6 linked regions of the Homo sapiens genome follow. The protein of the gene in region 1 purifies or fractionates together with the protein of each later gene. This does not show direct contact. Each region holds a gene or a part of one and is shown in the gene's direction. Other genes may lie near its edges. The genes, in order: NT5C2, XRCC4, ADNP, WARS1, GNPDA1 and ARID4B.

What was found.
Region 2: the proteins of NT5C2 (region 1) and XRCC4 fractionate together in Homo sapiens (co-fractionation; one large-scale study listed by BioGRID). This does not show direct contact.
Region 3: the proteins of NT5C2 (region 1) and ADNP fractionate together in Homo sapiens (co-fractionation; one large-scale study listed by BioGRID). This does not show direct contact.
Region 4: the proteins of NT5C2 (region 1) and WARS1 fractionate together in Homo sapiens (co-fractionation; one large-scale study listed by BioGRID). This does not show direct contact.
Region 5: the proteins of NT5C2 (region 1) and GNPDA1 fractionate together in Homo sapiens (co-fractionation; one large-scale study listed by BioGRID). This does not show direct contact.
Region 6: the proteins of NT5C2 (region 1) and ARID4B fractionate together in Homo sapiens (co-fractionation; one large-scale study listed by BioGRID). This does not show direct contact.

The regions. Positions count from the first base shown.
Region 1 is NC_000010.11:103,099,273-103,102,772, reverse strand, and holds part of NT5C2 (cytosolic purine 5'-nucleotidase), read left to right. Parts: intron 1-1,446; coding exon 1,447-1,538; intron 1,539-1,670; coding exon 1,671-1,728; intron 1,729-1,808; exon of another isoform or gene 1,809-2,021; intron 2,022-2,091; exon of another isoform or gene 2,092-2,110; intron 2,111-2,753; coding exon 2,754-2,847; intron 2,848-3,500. UniProt on the Homo sapiens protein: Broad specificity cytosolic 5'-nucleotidase that catalyzes the dephosphorylation of 6-hydroxypurine nucleoside 5'-monophosphates.
Region 2 is NC_000005.10:83,084,047-83,087,546, forward strand, and holds part of XRCC4 (DNA repair protein XRCC4), read left to right. Parts: intron 1-3,500.
Region 3 is NC_000020.11:50,896,938-50,900,437, reverse strand, and holds part of ADNP (activity-dependent neuroprotector homeobox protein), read left to right. Parts: intron 1-3,500.
Region 4 is NC_000014.9:100,368,848-100,372,347, reverse strand, and holds part of WARS1 (tryptophan--tRNA ligase, cytoplasmic), read left to right. Parts: intron 1-3,089; 5' UTR 3,090-3,162; coding exon 3,163-3,261; intron 3,262-3,500. UniProt on the Homo sapiens protein: Catalyzes the attachment of tryptophan to tRNA(Trp) in a two-step reaction: tryptophan is first activated by ATP to form Trp-AMP and then transferred to the acceptor end of the tRNA(Trp).
Region 5 is NC_000005.10:142,006,528-142,010,027, reverse strand, and holds part of GNPDA1 (glucosamine-6-phosphate deaminase 1), read left to right. Parts: intron 1-2,127; coding exon 2,128-2,229; intron 2,230-3,500. UniProt on the Homo sapiens protein: Catalyzes the reversible conversion of alpha-D-glucosamine 6-phosphate (GlcN-6P) into beta-D-fructose 6-phosphate (Fru-6P) and ammonium ion, a regulatory reaction step in de novo uridine diphosphate-N-acetyl-alpha-D-glucosamine (UDP-GlcNAc) biosynthesis via hexosamine pathway.
Region 6 is NC_000001.11:235,321,680-235,325,179, reverse strand, and holds part of ARID4B (AT-rich interactive domain-containing protein 4B), read left to right. Parts: intron 1-3,500. UniProt on the Homo sapiens protein: Acts as a transcriptional repressor. May function in the assembly and/or enzymatic activity of the Sin3A corepressor complex or in mediating interactions between the complex and other regulatory complexes.

The DNA.
Region 1 (3,500 bases):
CTCACATCACTTCTTATCTAGTTTTCATATTTCTGTTCATCGTACCAACCACCTCTCAGAGACACCTTAGCATGGACATCATCATCTTTGACTCTTTAATGTTCCCCCAGCCAAATCTGCTCAGTTTGCCGGGTCTTATTTTACCTTGGTAATCTCTCTTGAATATATGAGTGAGCTGAGATCACGCCACTGCACTCCAGCCTGGCCGACAGAGTGAGACTCTGTCTCAAAAAAAAAAAAAGAAAAAAGAAAAAATTCTGAGAGTCAACTGGGTGATTCTGGGTTGCACAGCTGATCTCTCTATGCTCTTTCACATGTCTGTGGTTAGCTGGTGGGTGACCTGGCATCTGATCTACAATGGCCTCATGCACATGTCTGGCATTCACAGGCTGTTGGCCGAGTGCTTCATTTCTACATGTAGCCTTCTATCCTCCAGCAGACTATCTCACTGTCATGCACATAGTAGTCCATGGTTCCAAGTGCTGCAAGAGAGATTAAGCCTCAATACACACATGTTTTTCTAGGTCTCTGCTTGGATCCCATTTGCTGCTATACAAGCCTATATTCAAGGATAGAGAAATAGACTGAGTTCTAATGGGAGGAGCCACAAAATTGCATCACAAAGAGACAGGAAGAATTTGTGGCCATTGTTGGAGTGCATCACATTGTCTTTCCCCAGTTTATCCTAAAACAGCCACTAATTTAATTTTGTTTTACAACTCAGCCCCGATGGGATTATCCTCTGCTTTAAAACTGTCAGTAGTACCCTCTTGCCCCTAAATGGTGTAGAAACAGTAGCTTAATCTGCCTCAACCCATCTTTCTAGCTTAATTTTTCTCTGCTCCCCTTTCTCTACCCAAGTTGGACTAGTTTCACAACTGGTCCACCTAGCCTTTAAGGCCCAGCTCATATACCAGCACGTGCATGAATCCTTCCTAGATTTTCCTCTCCTTAGTCCTCACATTTGCTTCTCTCTACCTCTTAAGTTGAAATGGTGTTCCCTTCTTTGGTTTTCTCATAAATGTTTGCACCTTTCTTGTAGTAGTTGTGATTTTTTACCTTATAATTATATGTGTATGTGACCCACCTCGCCCACCACACTGACAACTCTTTTAAGAGCTGGAACCTAAGCTGGACATCACACCTGTAATCCCAGCTACTTGGGAGGCTGAGGTGGGAAGATTGCTTGAGCAATCTTCAGGAGTTTGAGTCCAGCCTGGACTTAAAATAGCAAGACTGTCTTAAAAAAAAAAAAAAATTAAAATTAAAAAAAATAAAGAGCTGGAACCTGAACTCGTTCATCTTCATAGCTATCCATGCGTAATATTCGGAATTCTGTCTTGCACATAGCCATCAAAATATTTGAGTTAATTTTTGAATAATGCTATTTCCCAATTATTATAATGTTATTTTAAAAATCAGTTAATTTTTAAATTTTTCTTTCAGACCAGAAACTAGAGAACAGTATCCAAATAAATTTATCCAGCGAGATGATACTGAAAGATTTTACATTCTGAACACACTATTCAACCTACCAGGTAGATTCATTCTATGCTTATTTATACTGATGCTTTCCCTTCTGTGACCATTAGTCTGTATTCAAGGGAGGTAATGAAATAAGTTTGAATTATTTCATTATAGCTTATGAATATCTGTTCTTCATTTTTCAGAGACCTACCTGTTGGCCTGCCTAGTAGATTTTTTTACTAATTGTCCCAGATATACCAGGTATGTATATACTATAATTATTTTTTTCCAATTGATTTTTAAAATTAATGCACAGGGTTTTAGAGAACTGGCCATTGTAGGTCTTTTCTGCTTTTCTAAAGTGAATTTAGTGCTAGTGAGAGATGCCACATTGCCAACCTGAGAGATGGGACAGCACCAGCAGCTCCATGCAGGCTCTCACCTCCCACACGGCCCCTCTCCTTGCCAGTGTGCTGCAGCCACCACTTCTGATTGGCTTCTCCTGGGAATGAAGACGGCCAGCAGAGGTGCTAATTGTGACAACTGAGTGGGAGGTTTGTGTGATGATTATCTGTCCAAGCAGAATTACACTAAAACCCCCCAACTCATTTCACAGCAGCTACCCAGGAGCCATTCAGGGATGGTAATTTAATTTCATTCCCAGGCCAGGCAAGATTTGATTAAGGAATAAATACTGTGTATCTTATCAGAAGTAAAATTTTGCGTAAGTCTTAAACAAGTTATCCTCTCCCTTTAGGGAGAATTATATAGCCAATACTGAAAGTTTAGCCATCTATATACCAGAGTTGGCTAACTTCTTATCCTCTTTGGGCTTTATCCACTTGAAGACACTAAATTTGGTGGAAAGCTGAGTCACTGAACTAAATAAAAAAATGGACAGTACCTTTGTACTTAGGGACAGTGTCAGGAAAGTCAGGGTGGAAAGAACCTAAATGACCAATTTTAAGTTTTAAATGTTTCTTCAACCTGTTTCTAAAAAGTGATAAATAAAAAAACCTGACATTTTTGGAACTTTGGCCTTTTAGCTTCCATTCAATATATTCTTCTATCACTTTGTATTTGTTCACAATTACTGTATTCCATTGAACACTATAGCCATTTCTGGTGGTCAAAGTGGACTTTCATTAGGGAGTAATTATTTTCCTCATTAGCCACAGCCTTTACCCATGTGATATGGAACCTTTGGGTCCCCTGGGAAATTTTTGATATATATTTTGTTTACCCTGTTTTGGATCCCCTGTCATGTTATTTTTATCTTTCTGTAGTTGTGAAACAGGATTTAAAGATGGGGACCTCTTCATGTCCTACCGGAGTATGTTCCAGGATGTAAGAGATGCTGTTGACTGGGTTCATTACAAGGTACCTAGAAGCTGTTTCTTCACCTGCTTGCTTTCTGGCATGTATTTTATGGCGTGGCATTAACTTTCCAAATGGAGCAGAATATTTCTTTTTTTAAAAAAAGAAAAAACAGATTTGCCCCCGCCTAGTGATAGCCCTCTAGAATACATTTGTTCTTGTCTTTGGTCTCGGTGGTAATGTTGATCTTTCCTCAGTGATGGTGTTTGGCTTCTGGATTTTATTTTAGTTTGCATTTCTCAAACTTAGAAGAGGTTTTAGTGTATTACATTATACTTAACATATCCTTTGTGGATGACAGTGGTCCATTTTTTTTGTCCAGATACCTCCCACCCGACTAATAACATTAATAAATATTAAATTTACATGTATTATAAACTATTGAATAAAATATGAAATGCCTTTTAATTTCAAACTTAAAATAGAAACTGTTTTATATTTTGAAGACAAATTTTAGAGGCAGGGTTGCAGCAAATCATACCTGCTACTTTTTTCTGGCCTTCTCTAGTTTGTCCACTTTTCCATTTTGGTAAATCCTTAAGAAATGCATTTGGGGCTGGGCATGATGGCTCATGCCTGTAATCCCAGCACTTTGTGATGCCAAGGCAGGTGGATTGCTTGAGCTCAGGAGTTCAAGACTAGCCTGGGCAACATGA
Region 2 (3,500 bases), on another chromosome or scaffold:
ATCTTTGGGATATCAAATCCTGGTACATAGGAAGTAATCAGTGAATGTTTTAATGCATTAATGGCATGATCAAGGACACTCAGCTATGAAGCATAGTTTTGATTCCAACCTGGGTCTTTTGAGTGTAAAATCAATGGCTTATTTGCTATACCTTGTTTCTTAGGAAAAAGATGGCTGTCTTTAAAATAATTGAAAGGTACTGTATCCTTTTGATACAAGTAGGAGGGAGTTAATGCATTGTATAGCCCTGGACAATTTGCTCCTTGTTATTGCGGAAGCTGCCAGCCCTGATGAAAGTGAGTTGTGCCTTTTTCTAAGGCATTGGCTGAAATCATTGATCAGGGTTCAATTGCAGACAGCAAATTTTTAATGTTGATGAAATTAGGCACTTTTGGGGAGGAAAACATTCTTGAGATTTGTGTTGCCAAAAAGAAGAAATACTTGCCAAAGAAGAAATACATGCCAAAATTCCAAACTGTTCATGAGGCATTTATGTTTTTGCTAGATGCCATTACTACCAGTAACTTCATGTTACATTAAACTTGTGTACCATTGGGAAATCCCAGAGTGTTTAAAGATGTTGCAAAGATTTTCTTTCAGCAGTACCGAAATTTGCTCTTAAGATTGATTTAATTATGATTAGTTTGTTAACAGTATCTCTGACACGTAGCACAAAATTAGGTAAACTAATTTTGCGTTTAAAATACTGTTTGTTTAATCCTAGATAATGAGCTAGACTTCCCAACTACTCTTTATGATTGGCATCCTGAGTTCAAACTGCCTTCTGAATATTATCATTATTGTCGCAGCCTATAAACTAAAGCAGTTTTATCTTCACCTAGCCCTTAAGACTAACAAAAAAGGAAATCGATTAGCTCTATAGATTCTGAAAAGGCTTCCACATTAGTAATGTCGTTGCAAATGATAATTAGGCTTGAGATTAAGTAATCAAAAACAAATATTACCTGGAGGACATTGTATCCTGAATTTGTGTTCATTTCCATAGCTTTGCTAATCCTACAGAAGTGACTAAAATGTTGAAGTAAGCAAAGAGTTCAATCTGGTCTTGTGTGAGAGAATGCTATTAACTTACTTCTAATTTTACCTGAGCAGTGAATGAGAATTTTATTGGATAAAGAAGGAACTTGCTCATTTGAAACAGAAGCACATGGCTGCTAAGAAATGAGATGCAGCCATTGTTGAAACCTGTCAAAGTCTTGACAGTATAAATATTGACATGCTGAGACATGTCAATATTTACCATAGAATTTGGAAGTTGCCAAGTTCCTGTTTAAGAAATGTGACCCTAGCATTGGACACAGTATATCAATAAATACGGAACATGTCCAAATGAACAGCTGCTCAGGGAAAATAAAATTACATCTGTCTAAACGTTGGGGCACTTAAAAAGTTAAAGTTTAAATGTTTATGATTTTTTTTGTAATTTTTAGGTAGATGCTTGTATGATATAGTATACTAATAGAGTTCCATGTATGGGTTTAACATAAAATGACAGTATCATTGCTATTTATAAATTTGTAAATTAGCTGTGCTGTGATACTCATCTATAAATTGAATTTTAAAAACTTGCCAAGTGTTGTGTTTAGGAACTAACCCTTCATTTTCAACATTGTTCTTAAGGAGAAATTGGCTCATGATGACTTAGATATTAATTTGGGGAGACAAAAGTTTATACTCTGATAACTTCTTAAATGGCAACATAGAAAATAGAAGTTTTTGCACTTTAGATGTGATAAGGGAATATGACCTTGTTGTCATTATCTGACAAGCATGTCTCAGTAGAAAATCATATTATAGATCACCACTGTTAATTCCCATCTGAATATCACTGTATTTTAACAAAAAGCTTTTTGATGCAAAGTAGACATTTGAGCTTTTATATCAAGTCATTAGAACCACACAATCTTACATTGTTTTGCGGACTTCTAGAAGAAGTTTAAACTTAGCAATTCTTTGAACGACAGTCCTAAAACAATCTTAAGAACATAAAACATGGGTATCAGGACTTGTTTTCTCATTGCTTCTCCTTTCTAATGGTAGTGATAGGTGGCTTTTAAATAGTAATCTAATCATTTAACCAGTTCATAATATTGTATGAGTTCTTAGAAGAAATGAATGATTTATTAAGTCCATATAGTAGCGTACATTGTAATTAGCTATAGAGTTGACCCTTGAACAATATAGGGGTTAGGGATGCCAACCTCTCACGCAGTTGAAAATCCATGTATAACTTTTGGCTCCTTCAAAACTTAACTACTAATAGTTTATTGTTGACCAGAAGCCTCATCAATAACATAAACAGTTGATTAACATATGTTTTGTGTGTTATATGCATTATGTACTGTATTCTTACAATAAAGTAAGCTAGAAAAAAGTAAATGTTATTAAGAAAATCATAATGAAAGGAAAATATATTTACTATTCATTAAGTGGAAGTCGATCATCATAAAGGTCTTCATTCTTGTCTTCATGTTGAGCTGGCTGGGGCGGAAGAGGAAGAGAAGGATTGATCTTGCTGTCTCTGGGCTGGCAGAGGTGGCAGAGGTGGCAGAGGTAGAGGAGGTGGAAGAGGAGGCAGGAGAGGTGGACACAGTTGGTGTAACTTTTATTGAGAAACTTTAGAGTGTAAGTGGACCCACACAGAACAAACCTTCAGTTGTTCAGCGATCAACTGTGTATGTGCCTTAATTTAATTTCTCAGTTTTTATCTAGTTTTTTTTTTCAAAAACAGTTTTCTAAGACATTGGCTGGTTCTCTCTCTTTCTCATTTTGTCCTGAGTCAAAGAAATCCCTTAGATATTAAATCAGACATACCTGAACTGAATGTTCGTACCTAAATGCCTAACCATGATCTTTATGTTCTTGAATGTTCTAATTTGGTTGAATTTTTTTGGCCATCAGCTAAATAGATATCTCTGTTTTATATAACCTCTAAACAAGGTTTAATTAAAAAATCAGGCATTTCTAGGCCAGGAGTGGTGGCTCACACCTGTAATTCCAGCACTTTGGGAGGCCAAAGCAGGTGGATCACCAGAGGTCAGAATTTCAAGTCCAGCCTGGCCAACCTGGTGAAACCCCATCTCTACCAAAAATACAAAAATTAGCCGGGAGTGGTGGTGCATGCCTGTAATCTCAGCTACTCGGGAGGCTGAGACATGAGAATTGCTTGAACCTGGGAGGCAGAGGTTGCAGTGAGCTGAGATTGCGCCACTGCACTCCAGCCTGGGCAACAGAGTGAGACCCTGTCTCCAAAAAAATAAAAAATAAAAAGACATTTCTAAATAACAACAGCCCTATAAAATTTGTCCTGGTTGGCTGAGCACAGTGGCTCACACTTGTAATCCCAGCACTTTGGGAGGCCGAGGCAGGTAGATCATTTGAGGTCAGGCGTTTGAGACCAGCATGGCCAACATAGTGAAACCCCATCTCTACTAAAAATACAAAAATCAGCCAGGCGTGGTGGTGCATGCCTGTAATCC
Region 3 (3,500 bases), on another chromosome or scaffold:
CTTAATGATGGGATGCATTCTGAGAAATGCCCTGTTAGGTGATGTCATTGTTGTACAAACATCATAAAGGGTACTTACACAGACCTAGGTGGTATAGCCTCCTATTACCCCTACGCTATATGGTATGGCCTGTTGCTCCTAGGCTACAAACTTGTATGGCATGTTACTATAAGAGAATACTATATACTGAATACTATAAGAGTGATTAACACAATGGTAAGTATTTGTGTTTCTAAACATAGTGAAGCATAGAAAAGGTACAGTAAAAATGCAATATAAAAGAAAAATTGGTACACCTATATTGGGCACTTGCGGGACTGGAAGTTGCTCTGAGTGGTGACTGAATATGAAGGGACATTATTGTACATCACTGTAGACTTTATAAACACACTTAGGCTACATAAAAAGTAAAACTTTAAAATTCTTAACTTCTGAATCTTTTGTAATAACACTTAGCTTAAAACACAAACACGGCAACCTGCCCGGGTCCCCTTCCACACTGCGGAAGCTTTGTCCTTTCACTCTTCATAATGAATCTTGCTACCGCTCCAAAAAAAAAAAAAAAAAAAATTGTACAGCTGTATAAAAATATTTTGTCTTCATATGCTTACAGGCTTTTTCCTAGTCTTAAACTTTTTTTTTTTTTTTAACTTTTTAAACTGTTGTTAAAAACTAAGACACAGACATAATTAGCCTAGGCCTACACAGGGTCAAGATCAATGGTATTACCATTGCCACCTTCACAGCTTGTCTCACTGGAAGGTTTTCAGGAGCAGTAACACGCATGGAGCCATCATTTCCTGTGATGGCAGTGTCGTCTTCTAGATACCTCCTGAAGGATCTGGCTGAGGCTGTTTTAGAGTTAACTTTTTTTTAAAAAATATAGAAGTAAGTGGTACACTCAAATAATGATTAAAAACTCATTACCGGCCGGGCGCTGGGCTCATGCCTATAATCCCAGCACTTTGGGAGGCCGAGGCAGGTGGATCGCCTGAGGTCAGGAGTTCGAGACCAGCCTGGCCAACATGGTGAAACCCCCTCTCTACTAAAAATACGAAAATTCGCCAGGTGTGGTGGCAGATGCCTGTAATCCCAGCTACTGGAGGTTGGAAGTGGGAGCGGGGAAGGCAGGAGAATCGCTTGAACCTGGGAGGTGGAGGTTGCAGTGAGCTGAGATCGTGCCATCGCACTCCAGCCTGGGGGACAAAAGCAAGACTTCATCTCAAAAAAAAAAAAAAAACCTCATTACCAAAATCCTTGCATACTTAAGTCCCACAGTTGGCCCTGGAGAACCTGCATATACCAAAAGCTAGCCCTCTGTATAAGAGGGTTTGAGCATCCCAAGAATACTGTATCTTTGATCTACATTTGTTTGGAAAAAATCCACATATAAGCAGTTCAAACCTATGTTGTTGAAGAGTCAACTGTATAGTAAATACTAGGTGACAGAAATTTTTCAGCCCCGTTATAATCTTGGGGGAACATAGTCCCATATGCAGTCTGTACTAGACAGAAAACATCAGCACATGACTTCCTGATAATGACAGTTAAAAACCGTATTGCCAGTTTATGTATTTACTATATATACTTTTTATTTTAGAGTGTACTCCTACTTTTTAAAACAGCTTTTCATGGTAACTGGTAGCAGCCTCATACAGCTTGTGTTCACTGTGTCTCTTGATTGCATCATTCTTGTGCATGGTTTAATCTCATGGTATTTTGTTCATCATGGCCCCTAAGCATACAAAATCCATAATGTTGCCAGTAAGGGGCCATGTTGAGTGATTGACCTGGAAACAGAAGTGATTAAGGACTACGAAGGTGGAGAATCAGTGATGGTTATTTCTTGCCAGTCAGGCTTGTCCCATTTTACCATAGCTATGATCTTGAAGAACAAGAACAAAGTGACAGAAGCTGTTAAAGCATCTGCTTCATTGAAGGCAATGAGACTAACAAAAATTCAAGAAGGGCCTTTATCAGACACACACAAGCTTCTGATGACCTGGATTGAAGAGCAGACACAGGTGCACACGGTGCTGTGTACCTCTCAGCACCATGATGATCCCAAAGCAAAAAGTGTGTTTGAGGTGTTGAAAGAAAAGGCTGGACCTGGCTGTGATGTTGAATTGACTGCTAGTTCTGGGTGGTGTAAACAATTCAAGAATCGTTATTCATTACATAATGGGAAAGTGGTGAGTTTGTGAGTGCTGATGTAAAGGCAGCGGAAGAATTTTGGGAAACTCTAGATAAGCTGAGTCTGGAGGAAAATCACTTGCCAGAACAAATTTTCAATATGGATGAAACCTTTCTATTCTGGAAACAGATGCCTGAAAGGACTTTGATCCATGAGGTAGACCAAAGCAATGCCAGGCTTCAAGTCTTTTAAGGACTGGATGACAGTCTTGCTTGGGGGCAATGTTGCAGGCCACAAATTGAAACCCTTTGTGATTTGGCATGTTGAGAACCCTAGGGGCTTCAAGCATATCAATACACACACACTTGGCCAGTGCACTGCAGGAGATATAAGAAGTCGTGGGTGACCCTGCTCCTCTTTCAAGATGCCCTCCTGAATAGATATGCCTGCGAAGTGGAGAAGTAGTATTGAGAGAATAACATACCCTTCAAGCTTTTGCTTATTGTCGCTGATAAGCAAATGCCTCCTTTAAGTGGTGTTTTTCATCCCAGTATCAAACACCACCTCTTTGATCCAACTGATGGAGTTACAGCAGCTTTTAAGGCGTACTATCTGAGAAAGGCCTTTGTCCTGTCGTCGCAGCTTAGGGAGACACTGAGAAGATTCTGATACAATTCTGGAAGGATTGCAATATCTGTGACTGCATTAAGAATCTTGCTTGGGCTTGGGTTGATGTCATCAAGGAGTGTATGAATGGCATCTGGAAGAATACACTCAAGAGGTTTGTCCATGACTTAAAAGGATTTGCATAAATCACAAAGTCTGTGATTGAGATGGCAAACAACTTTAACCGGGGTGTGGATGAGGACAACAGGAGCTCCTAGAGGTGATTCCTGAGGAATTGACTGGTGAGGAGCTGTGGGAACTAGAACAAGTTCCCGCATAGGTGAAGAGGAAAGAGAAAAGGAAACTGCAGGAAAAGCAAAAGAAGAACCCTCAAGAAAATTCAGTGAAGGATTTAGCAGTGCAGACCTCAGCAAGCTCCTTAAGTCTGAAAACACGTGGCCGGGCTTGGTGGCTCACGCCTGTAATCCCAGCATTTTGGGAGGCCGAGGCTGGTGGATCATCTGAGGTCAGGAGTTCAAGACCAGCCTGGCCGACATGGTGAAACCCCGTCTCTACTAAAAATACAAAAAAATTAGCCGGGCGTGGTGGTGGGGCGCCTGTAATCCCAGCCACGAGGCTGAGGCAGGAGAATCGCTTGAACCCGGGAAGTGCAGGTTGCAGTGAGCCGAGATTGTGCCATTGCACTCCAGCTTGGGTGACAAGAGCAAAAAAACTGCATCTCAAACAACAACAAAAAAGT
Region 4 (3,500 bases), on another chromosome or scaffold:
TTTTTCAATTTTTGTTTTTTTATTTTATAAAAATTTTTTGGAGAGACAGGGTCTCACTATCCATGTTACCTTTCACTCGTGTCACTCGTGTCCGTGTGAAGAGACCACCAAACAGGGTTTGTGTGAGCAACAAGGTTGTTTATTTCACCTGGCTGCAGGCGGGCTGAGTCCAAAAAGAGAGTCATGGAAGGGAGATAGGAGTGGGGCCGTTTTATAGGATTTGGGTAGGTAAAGGAAAGTTATAGTCAAAGGGGATTGTTCTCTGGCGGGCAGGTGGCAGGGGTCACAAGGTGATCAGCAGGGGAGCTTTTGAGCCAGGATGAGCAAGGAGAAGGAATTTCACAAGGGAATGTCATCAGTTAAGGCAGGAACAGGCCATTTTCACTTCTTTTGTGAAGGAATGTCATCAGTTAAGGCCATCTGGATGTGTACGTGCCGGTCACAGGGGATATGGTGGCTTAGCTTGGGCTCAGAGACCTGACATTACCCAAGCTGCTCTTGAACTCCTGAGCTCAAGCAATCGCCTCTGCTTCCCAAAGCACTTGGACTGCAGTTGTGAGCCACCGCTCACAGCACCCGTGATTTACATACTTTTTGGAATTTTTTTTGTTTTGAGACAGAGTCTCTCTCTGTTGCCCAGGTTGGAGTGCAGTGGCATGGTCTCAGCTCACTGCAACCTCTGCCTCCCAGGTTCAAGTGATTCTCATGCCTCAGCCTCCCAAGTAGCTGGGACTACAGGTACATGCCACCATGCCTGGCTAATTTTTGTATTTTTAGTGAAGATGGGGTTTCACCATGTGGGCCAGGCTGGTCTTGATCCACCCTCCTTGGCCTCCCAAAGTGCTGGGATTACAGGCATGAGTCACCACACCTGGCCTACTTTTTTTTTTTTTTTTTTTTGAGACAGAACCTTTCTGTCACCCAGGCTGGGGTGCAGTGGTGTGATCTCAGCTCACTGAAACCTCCACCTCCTGGTTTCAAGCAATTCTCCCACCTCAGCCTCCCAGGTATTTGGAACTACAGGTGTGCGCCACCATGCCCAGCTAATTTTTCTCTATTTTTAGTTGAGACGGGGTTTCACCATGTTGGCCAGGCTGGTCTCAAACTCCTGACCTCAGGTGATCCACCCACCTCAGCCTCCCAAAGTGCTGGGATTATAGGCGTGAGCCACCACACCCAGCCAATTTACGTACTTTTAAAGCAAATATTTAACAAATGGATAGGATAGAGTAAAATAAATGACACCACAAATGTATATGTTTGGTTCATAAAGATAAGTCATTTGTAAGATAATGGTTGAAAGTGTAGGCTCTAGAGTCAAACTACTAGAGTCTATAACGCATCTCTGCCATTTCCTTGTGATGTTAACATGGGCAAGTTTTATTTTATTTTATTTTTATTTTTAGAGACAGGGTCTTACTCTGTCACCCGGGCTGGAGTACAGTGGCGCAAACGTAGCTCACTGAAGCCTCGAACTCCTGGGCTCAAGTGATCTTCCTGCTATAGCCTCCCAAGTAGCTGGGATTACAGGCCCACCACCATGCCCAGCTAATTTTTTTTTTTTTCATTTTTTTGTAGAGTCTCACTATACTGCCCAAAGTGCCAGGGTTGCAGGTATGAGCCACCATGCCCAGCCATGGGCAAGTTTTTTTTAACCCCTCTGTGCCTCATCTATAAAATGGAGATTACAAATCTATTTCATAGGACTGCTGCAAGGCTTAAGTGAATTGATACATATACGGTGCTTAGAACAATAACAGGTACAGAGGTGTTCAAAGTTAGCAGCTCAGGCACTAGCCTTGTCATTTTCCTTCTCCAAGGTTTTACAGCAAGTTAAAATGAAGCTGGAGTTCAGCCAATCTTTGGAATCCTAAGAAACACAAGAAATTTAATAACAGCACTCGTAACGTAGTTACATCTTGCTTTACAGTTTACAAAGTGCTACCATGCCTTTTTTTTCTCATTTTGTTCTCATAAGAGCCTGGGGTAGATGAAGTTCCTGGTGGCGCCATTTTATAGGTTAGGAAACTTGACTCTTAGGAAGTGATTGAGCCAAGAAAGGTTTGATGGCGATACAGTCTCTGTCTGCCATGTCCCCACTTCCTGCAAGGGTTATAATGAATCATGACTAATAGGAGGTGCAGACACACCTTCTGCAAAGGCTTGTAGTTAAATAAGGCAGCACGTGGAATGGACAGACTGGAGACAGTCCTTACCTCATGTGGAACCTAGGACAGGTAAGGCCCTGTCCTCCACCCCAGAGCTCACTTTGTCTGAGAGCAGCTGACCAGCAGTGGAAGACATTTGCTCAGCGATATATTAGTTATGGCTGCAAAAGCCCAAGAATTCATCCCCAAGGCAATTAAGATAAACCACAAATAGAGGATGGGTGCCTTGGCTCACACCTATAATCCCAACACTTTCGGGAGGCTGAAGTGAGAGGATCACCTGAGGTCAGAAGTTCAAGACCAGCCTGGCCAACATGGTGAAACCCTCCCTCTACTAAAAATACAAAAATTCGCTGGGCATGGTGGCAGGCAGCCTCAGGAGGCTGAGACAGAAGAATCGCTTGAACCCCAGAGGTGGAGGTTGCAGTGAGCCAAGATCACACCATTGCACTCCAGCCTGGGTGGCAGAGCGAGACTCCATCTCAAAAAAAAAAAAAATCAAATAGTAATTTGCCAAAAGTTTTTAGCAATGAACTTAAGTTCATTAAAACACATTGGTATTTATACCCTGAGCAAACAGGAGTCCTCCTGTGTTCTGGGCACTGGGTGGGGGCACAGGGGCATCACCAGATGCAAACTTGATCTTGACTAGGAGGGCCCCTCCTAGTCAAGTAGATTCACACCTTAAGTCAGTAAATCCTAGCCACTCCTTTAGTCTTCATCACTGGCATTTGATGGTTTTCCTCTTCTTCATGGCCCCAAATTTCTGGTTCTCTTTTTATTATATTATCTATGTCCTTTACTGTAACTCACCTCACAACCTTTTCGGAAAAAAGGACTCAATACAGGAAAGGAAAAACAGCCGCGATGTTGTGTTAACCTCTGGTTTTTCCTCTCTCTCCTTCCCCGCCCCCACCCCAGTCTTGACTCGTCTGCTGAACAAATCCTCTGACCTCAGGCCGGCTGTGAACGTAGTTCCTGAGAGATAGCAAACATGCCCAACAGTGAGCCCGCATCTCTGCTGGAGCTGTTCAACAGCATCGCCACACAAGGGGAGCTCGTAAGGTCCCTCAAAGCGGGAAATGCGTCAAAGGTACATGATTTTGCTGGGTTCTCCACGAAGGCAGCTGAGCCTCCCAAGTCTGTAGGGTTGTGTTCCTCTAGAATAGATGGTTTCCTCAATGACTGAGGTGTTTTGGTTATAATTTTTTATTTTTTGAGAGGGAATTTCACTCTTGTTTCCCAGGCTGGAGTGCAATGGTGCAATCTAAGCTTGCTGCAACCTCTGCCTCCCGGGTTCAAGTGACTCTCCTGCCTCAGCCTCCCAAGTAG
Region 5 (3,500 bases), on another chromosome or scaffold:
TCCTAACTGTGGAGAGACCCAACCTCTGTATGGGTCAGAGTCTGGCCTTCTGAAACCATTCCCTCGTTCCCATCATTGCAGAGTCAGATCCAAGCTCTTCAGAGTGGCATTCAAGGCCCTCCAAAACCTGGCCTCTCCCTGCCTGTCCTGCTTGAACCAACAGGACAGCGTTTCCACACGGGTTCCTTGGAACATTGCTTCTGTTAGATGTAGCACCTGTCAGGGTTCTGAGTGGAAACCACAGAAACCAACTCCAGCTAAATTAAGCAGAAAAGGAGTTTATTGGCTAGATACTGGGAAGTTCAGAGAATTCATGGGAAGGCTAGAAGTTTGGAAAATGGCAGGAGAGAGGAAGCTATGTGGCTCAGGCATAGCTAAGGCCTTGTCACACGGACCAACTAATTATTTTGGGTGGGCTGCGGGGAGCTGCCATTCACTCAGCAGGTATTTATTGAGTACCCTCTGTATGCAAAGCTGTTCTAGCCTCTAAGGATACAGCAATGAACAAAAAGGATATGAACTTCTGCCTTCTGAGGCTTAAATTATAATGGGAGAGACATAATAATTAGCAAAATATAGAGTATGTTAGATGGTGATAAGAGGAAAGGAGAAACATGAAGCAGGAAAGGATAGGGAGTGTGTCGGCAGGGGTGGGGCTGTGCAGTGTTGGATATGGTGGCAGGGAGGGTCTCATAGCCAGGGGCCAGGTTCTGTGGAGCCTTAGAATAACTGGTGTTGCTGAGGGTGAAATGAGAAGCTATTGGTGGGTTTTGAAAAGAGGGGTGACATGACGTAATCTCGATGGGTTTTTTTTCTTTCATTTTTTTAGTTTGCAAAATTTCAAATATTCAAAAAAGAGGAAAAAAACAGGTCAATACCATTCACCTAAATTCACCAATTGTTACCATTTTGCCACATTTGCTTTTACCTTTCTCTGGCTCTTGTTCTTTATCTACACACACACACACTTTTTTTTTCTGAACCACATGAAAATAAGTTCCAGACATCCTGACACTTATCTCTAAATCCTTCAGCACATATCTCCTGAGAATAAGGACATTCTCCTACACAACCATGATACCATCATACCTAAGAAAATGAAAAATCATGCCATCATCTAATATGCAAACTGTGTTCACAATTTTTTCTCAATTGTCCACATTTATCTTTTATAGGTTGGTTTTTAAAAAATTAATTCAGTGTCCAGTCAGGGTTCATGCATCTTTAGTCTTTTAATATACAGTGTCCTCCTACCTTTTATTGTGTGTGTGTTTTTATGACATTGACTTTTTTTTTTTTTCAAGATAGAGTCTGGCTCTATTGGCCAGGCTGGAGTGCAGTGGTGCAATCTCGGCCCACTGCAACCTCTGCCTCCCAGGTTCAAGTGATTCTTGTGCCTCAGCCTCCCGAGTAGCTGGGATTACAGGCACATGCCACCATGCCCAGCTACTTTGTGTATTTTTAGTAGAGACAGGGTTTCACCATGTTTTCCAGGCTGGTCTTGAACTCCTGACCTCAAGTGATCTGCCCGCCTTGGCCTCCCAAAGTGTTGGGGTTACAGGCGTGAGCCACCATGCCTAGCCATGACATTGACTTTTTAATGAGACTCAACTAGGGCTTCGCTGCTCCTCAGGGAAGTCTTCCTTGAACCCTGAAGCACTGGGTGAGCCTGTGCTTTACCCTATCACAACTGACGTTCCTGCTTTGTGTTCTACTCCTAGTGAGTTATCTTAGAGTAGCTACTGTCCCTTGCTCCCCTGTGTCCTTATCACATGGCCCTGTGCCTTGCACATATTACTTGTTCAGGGAGTATCATGTCAATAATGAAGTCTGATGTTCACTCAGGTACTAATCAGAGTGATTTCAGTCATCAGTGTGCTGGATACTGGGAGATTCAGCAGTGATCAAGGCAGACACAGTCCTGCCCTCCTGGAGCTTACAGTCTAGTGGCAAAATAGGCATTAAACAAGCAATTAATGGATGGATGGCAGTTAGGATTGGAGTACTGGGTAGGACTTCAGATCTGACAGGTTCTCCCTGTGAGCAGCCCTGACTTATTCCTGTGAACCCTCTGGGCTTCCAGACTTGGGGTGCAAGGGGTGTTCATGGGTGTGGCCACTCTTGCAGGGAGTACCCCACTTGGCTGCTACAAGAAGCTGATTGAATACTATAAGAATGGGGACCTGTCCTTTAAATATGTGAAGACCTTCAACATGGATGAGTACGTGGGTGAGTCTTTCTCTTTCAAGGTTCTTTCCTGATTCTAGGAGAGTGATGCTCCTCCTCTCATTGGCCCAGTCCTGGAGAGGAATCGGGGAGCCAGTGACATTTGATGATAGGCTCAATTATCAATACTTACCTCTTGGTTTACTCAGCTATAAAATGGGGCTAATAAAGCTGACCTCACAGGTTGTAAGCATTAAATTCATTTAATCCTTTTATGATAAAAGATGTGGAAGTTTCTTATACATAACAAATACTTAATAAATATTAGAGTATCTCCTTCTCCTCTGCCTGCTCCTCAACTCCATTCCATTTCTTTCTGGAACAAATGATTGCAAGTGGGATCCTGGCTCGGGTGTTTCCCCTAGGATCTGTGTCTGTGCTTTCTCTTCTGTGTGTGGCCTCCAGCTCCCCTTTCTGCCAGGTACACTTGAAGGGGACCTGAGATTGGTATCCTTCCTGCTGCTGAAAGACTATACCTTGGTCTTCTATCACCTCTCCCTCACCCAGTCCTTTTGTAATAGCTTCATTTTAAACATCCTTTTTTTAAAAAAAAAATTGTGGTAAAATACATGTAACATGACATTTACCATCTTAACCACCTTTCTGTGTATAGTTCAGTAGTGTTAAGTGCATTCACATTGTTGTGCAACCAATTTCCAGAACTCTTTTCATCTTGTAAGACTCAGGCTCTATACCCGTGAAACAACAACTTCTCATTTCCCACTTCACCAGCCACGGAAACCACCATTTTACTGTCTGTTTCTATGAATTTGACTACTCTAGAATCAAACTAGAGTATATAACTGGAATCATAAAGTATTTGTCTTTTTGACTGGCTTCTTACACCTAGCATAAAGTCCACAAGGTTCATCCATTGTTGTAGTGTGTGTCAAAATTTCCTTCCTTTTTAAGGCTGATTTTACATATTCTTAATGCTTAACATTAAACATTATTTTTTTTTCCTGGCCAAAAAAAAAAAAGTTGATCTGGGGAAGCCCTAAGATAGTTCTCTCTAACCACCTGGTGTTCAAGCTGGGATTTATTCAGGCTGAGTGGGGTAGAACTGGGAGTGGATGGTGGGTTGAGAGGCACAGGGTGAGGGGTGTGCTTGCTTGCTTTCTAAGATGAGTTCAGCCCTACCCCAGGTGGCCAGAGTGTCCCCAGCCTCTAACCTATGGTCATTGCCTTATGAAAAGCAGATCAGATCAGAATGTGGGGATTTCCCAGGCCCTTGGTGTGCAGTTACTCTGGCCAAGCCCTGTGGCCACAGATGG
Region 6 (3,500 bases), on another chromosome or scaffold:
TAAATTTCTAACTTCATACAAGTACTTCCTGTTATTATAAGTATAGCAAATCTCAGAGAATTTGCTAGTAATTATTAGTACTAAAAACTTAGCTTATTTCTTACAACTTTATTTCTTATGTGATAAAAGATGAGAAGCTTCTTGTAATTTGTATTTTGCTTTAGCAAAAATTGCAATTCAGAATCTATTTAATGTTGAGTGTATTAGGCCTAAATTTTGTTTCTTTTTCTGTGTGTTCCCAATTTCTTTCGTTCTTTTTTATTTTTCTTTTTGATATAGAGTCTCACTATTTCACCCTGGCTGGCACGATCTGTAACTGCTGCCTCCTGGGCTCAAATAATCCTCCCACCTCAGCCTCCTGAGTAGCTGGGACTACAGGCACACCTGGCTAATTTTTGTAGTTTTTGTAGAGATGAGGTTTTGCCGTGTTGCCCAGGCTGGTGTCGAACTTCTGGGCTCAGGTGACTCTCCCGCCTTAGCCTCCCAAAGTGCTGGGATTACAGGCGAGAGTCACCGTGCCTGGTGTAATTTCTGTATTACGATGATCATTGAGCTACAGAAGGTTTTATGCCATTTATTGGATCTTACCAAACATATTTGTACTTGGGAGCAAGCTTTTAAGTTTGAATTGTCTGTTGTATTAACGACAACAAATCTTTAAATTTTATTAAGTGACAGTTTATTGAGGTGATTGAAAGTTAGATTATGTAGTAATACTTTTTAGGTGTTGTTTTAAAGTTGAAGTGTTGTATGTTTTAGCAGTTTTCCCATGTACTACCTTTAAGAATTTATGTAAACAAATACATTCCCATTACTGTCTAATATATGCTATGTTACTTTTTTCACAGTATGTTTTTGAGGAATATGATTCGTAATACATAAGGAATTTGTGCTGTAACATAGATCGTGATGTTGGTGTTATGTTGAATTTATTTTTCATGCTCTTGATAGACTTTTAAAAATCAGTGGTGCCGGCTGGGCATGGTGGCTCACGCCTGTAATCACAGCACTTTGGGAGGCCGAGGTAGGAGGATCACCTGAGGTCAAGGGAGTTTGAGACCAGCCTGGCCAGCGTAGTAAAACCCTGTCTCTTCTAAAAATACAAAATTAGCTGGGCATGGTGGCACACACCTGTAATCCCAGCTATTCGGAAGGCTGAGGCAGGAGAACTGCTTGAACCCAGGAGGCGGAGGTTGCAGTGAGCTGAGGTTGCGCCACTGAACTCCAGCCTCGGCGAAAAAAGTGAAACTCTCTCTCTCAAAAAAAAAAAAACTAAATAAAATAAAATAAAAATCAGCAGTACCACATTATAAGGAGGTGGTAGATTATTAAAGTTTGTAAATAATTCCAAGACTTATTTTTATTATGTCAGGTTGATTTTTACTTTTTTTTTTTAAGACGGACTTTTGCTCTTGTTGCCCAGGCCGGAGTGCAGTGGTGCGATCTCGGCTCACTGCAACCTCTGCCTCCCAGGTTCAAGCAGTTCTCCTGCCTCAGCCTCCTGAGTAACTGGAATTATAGGCATGCACCATCATGCCGGGCTAATTTTGTGCTTTTAGTAGAGACAAGGTTTCTCCATATTGGTCAGGCTGGTCTCGAACTCCTGACCTCAGGTGATCTGCCCGCCTCGGCCTCCCAAAGTGCTGGGATTACAGGCGTGAGCCACTGCGCCCGGCCGATTTTTACTTTTTTTAAACTCAAACTTTTTTTTCCTGTATCTATATTGTACATGTTATTAACGTCTTTTATTACGTAGCAGTAAATTTTCAATTAAAATGGGCTGGTTGGGCTGGATATACCAGAATCTTTAGAGGAGGAATGATTTAGATGATTATACTTTGGCGGGCATGGTGGCTCATGCTTGTAATCCCAGTACTTTGGGAGGCTGAGGTGGGTGGATTACTTGAGGTTGGGAGTTCAAGACCAGCCTGGCCAAAGTGATGAAAACCCCGTCTCTACTAAAAGTATAAAAAAATTAGCTGGGCATGGTGGCGCATGCCTGTATTCCCAGCTACTCAGGAGACTGAGGTAGGATCGCTTGAACCTAGGAGGTGGAGGTTGCAGTGAGTCGAGATGGCACCACTGCACTCCAGCTTGGGTGACAGGGAGACCCCATTTCAGGAAAAAAAAAAAAAAAAAGGTGGTTATATTTAGAATCCACGTAGATTGAATTTTCCAGATGTACTTTTCTTTCTTCAACAATGATTGGCTTAGGCCACATGAAAAAATAATGGATTGATTACAAATTCCCTTTTTTAATGCCCTGTGTGTGTGTACATGTTCTCTCTCTCTCTCCCCCTACCTCTACCTTTGTTTGTCTCCCTATCCACTCTGTCAGTTCGTTCCCCCCTCTCTGTTCTTTTCCTTCCCCCTCTTCCTTCTGTCTCACCCCTTTCATAAGTCATTCATTTAACAACAACCCGTTTCATATATCAGGTAATATAGAATGAAGGTGGGTGAGGCATCTGACCTGCTTTCAGGGAGCCCACAGTGTAGCAGAAGATGCAGATAAATAAAGCAAAACTCCTAGCATATCTATTTATGAGTATTCCAACATAAAATAATTGTAGGAAATGCTATGAGAGGACAGAAGAGGACAGCTAAATCAGAGAGCTATGGAAAGTTTTCTGGTGGAGTTGACATCTAAGCTGAGTGCGAAGGCTTTTGCTAGGCAAAGAAGGGAAGAAAAGTTTTTCAGATAGAGGATAACGTACTGGAAAATGAACGAAACAAGGTGAAGTATCTGGAAACTGTAAGTAATTTGGTGTGACTGAATTAACTTAAAGCATGATATGTTTGGGTAGGAATAAAAGGGCAGTGGTGGGAGATGAAGCTGAGTGAGGGAGTCGAAAATTTTCTTGGCCAGGCATGGTGTCTCACACCTGTAATCCCAGCACTTTGGGAGGTTGAGGCAGGTGGATCACCTGAGTTCTATACCAGCCTGGCCAACATGGTGAAACCCTGTTTCTACTAAAAATACAAAATTAGCAGGGCATGGTGGTGTGAGCCTGTAATGCCAGCTATTAGGGAGGCTGAGGCAGAAGAATAGCTTGAACACGGGAGGTGGAGGTTACAGTGAGCCGAGATCATGCCATTGCACTCCAGCCTGGGTGACAAGAGCAATACTCTGTCTCAAAAAAAAAAAAATTTTTTCTTGAAAACTACATGGAACCATTGAAAGTTGTTGAGAATTGCTTGAACCCAGGAGCTGGAGGTTGCGGTGAGCTGAGATCAGGCCACTGCAAAAACAAGGGGAGAGCTGAATGTAAGGATGGAAATTCCAGGTAAGAAGTCCAAGTGGAAAATGAATAAGGGCCTGAACTAATGCATTGGAAGTGGAGCAGAGAGGATAGATCTGAGCCTTTTTGAAGTAGAATTCAGGGCCGGGCACAGTGGCTCACACCTGTAATCCCAGCACTTTGGGAGGCTGAGGTGGGTGGATCATGAGGTCAGGAGATTGAGACCATCCTGGCTAACACAGTGAAACCCCGTCTCTACTA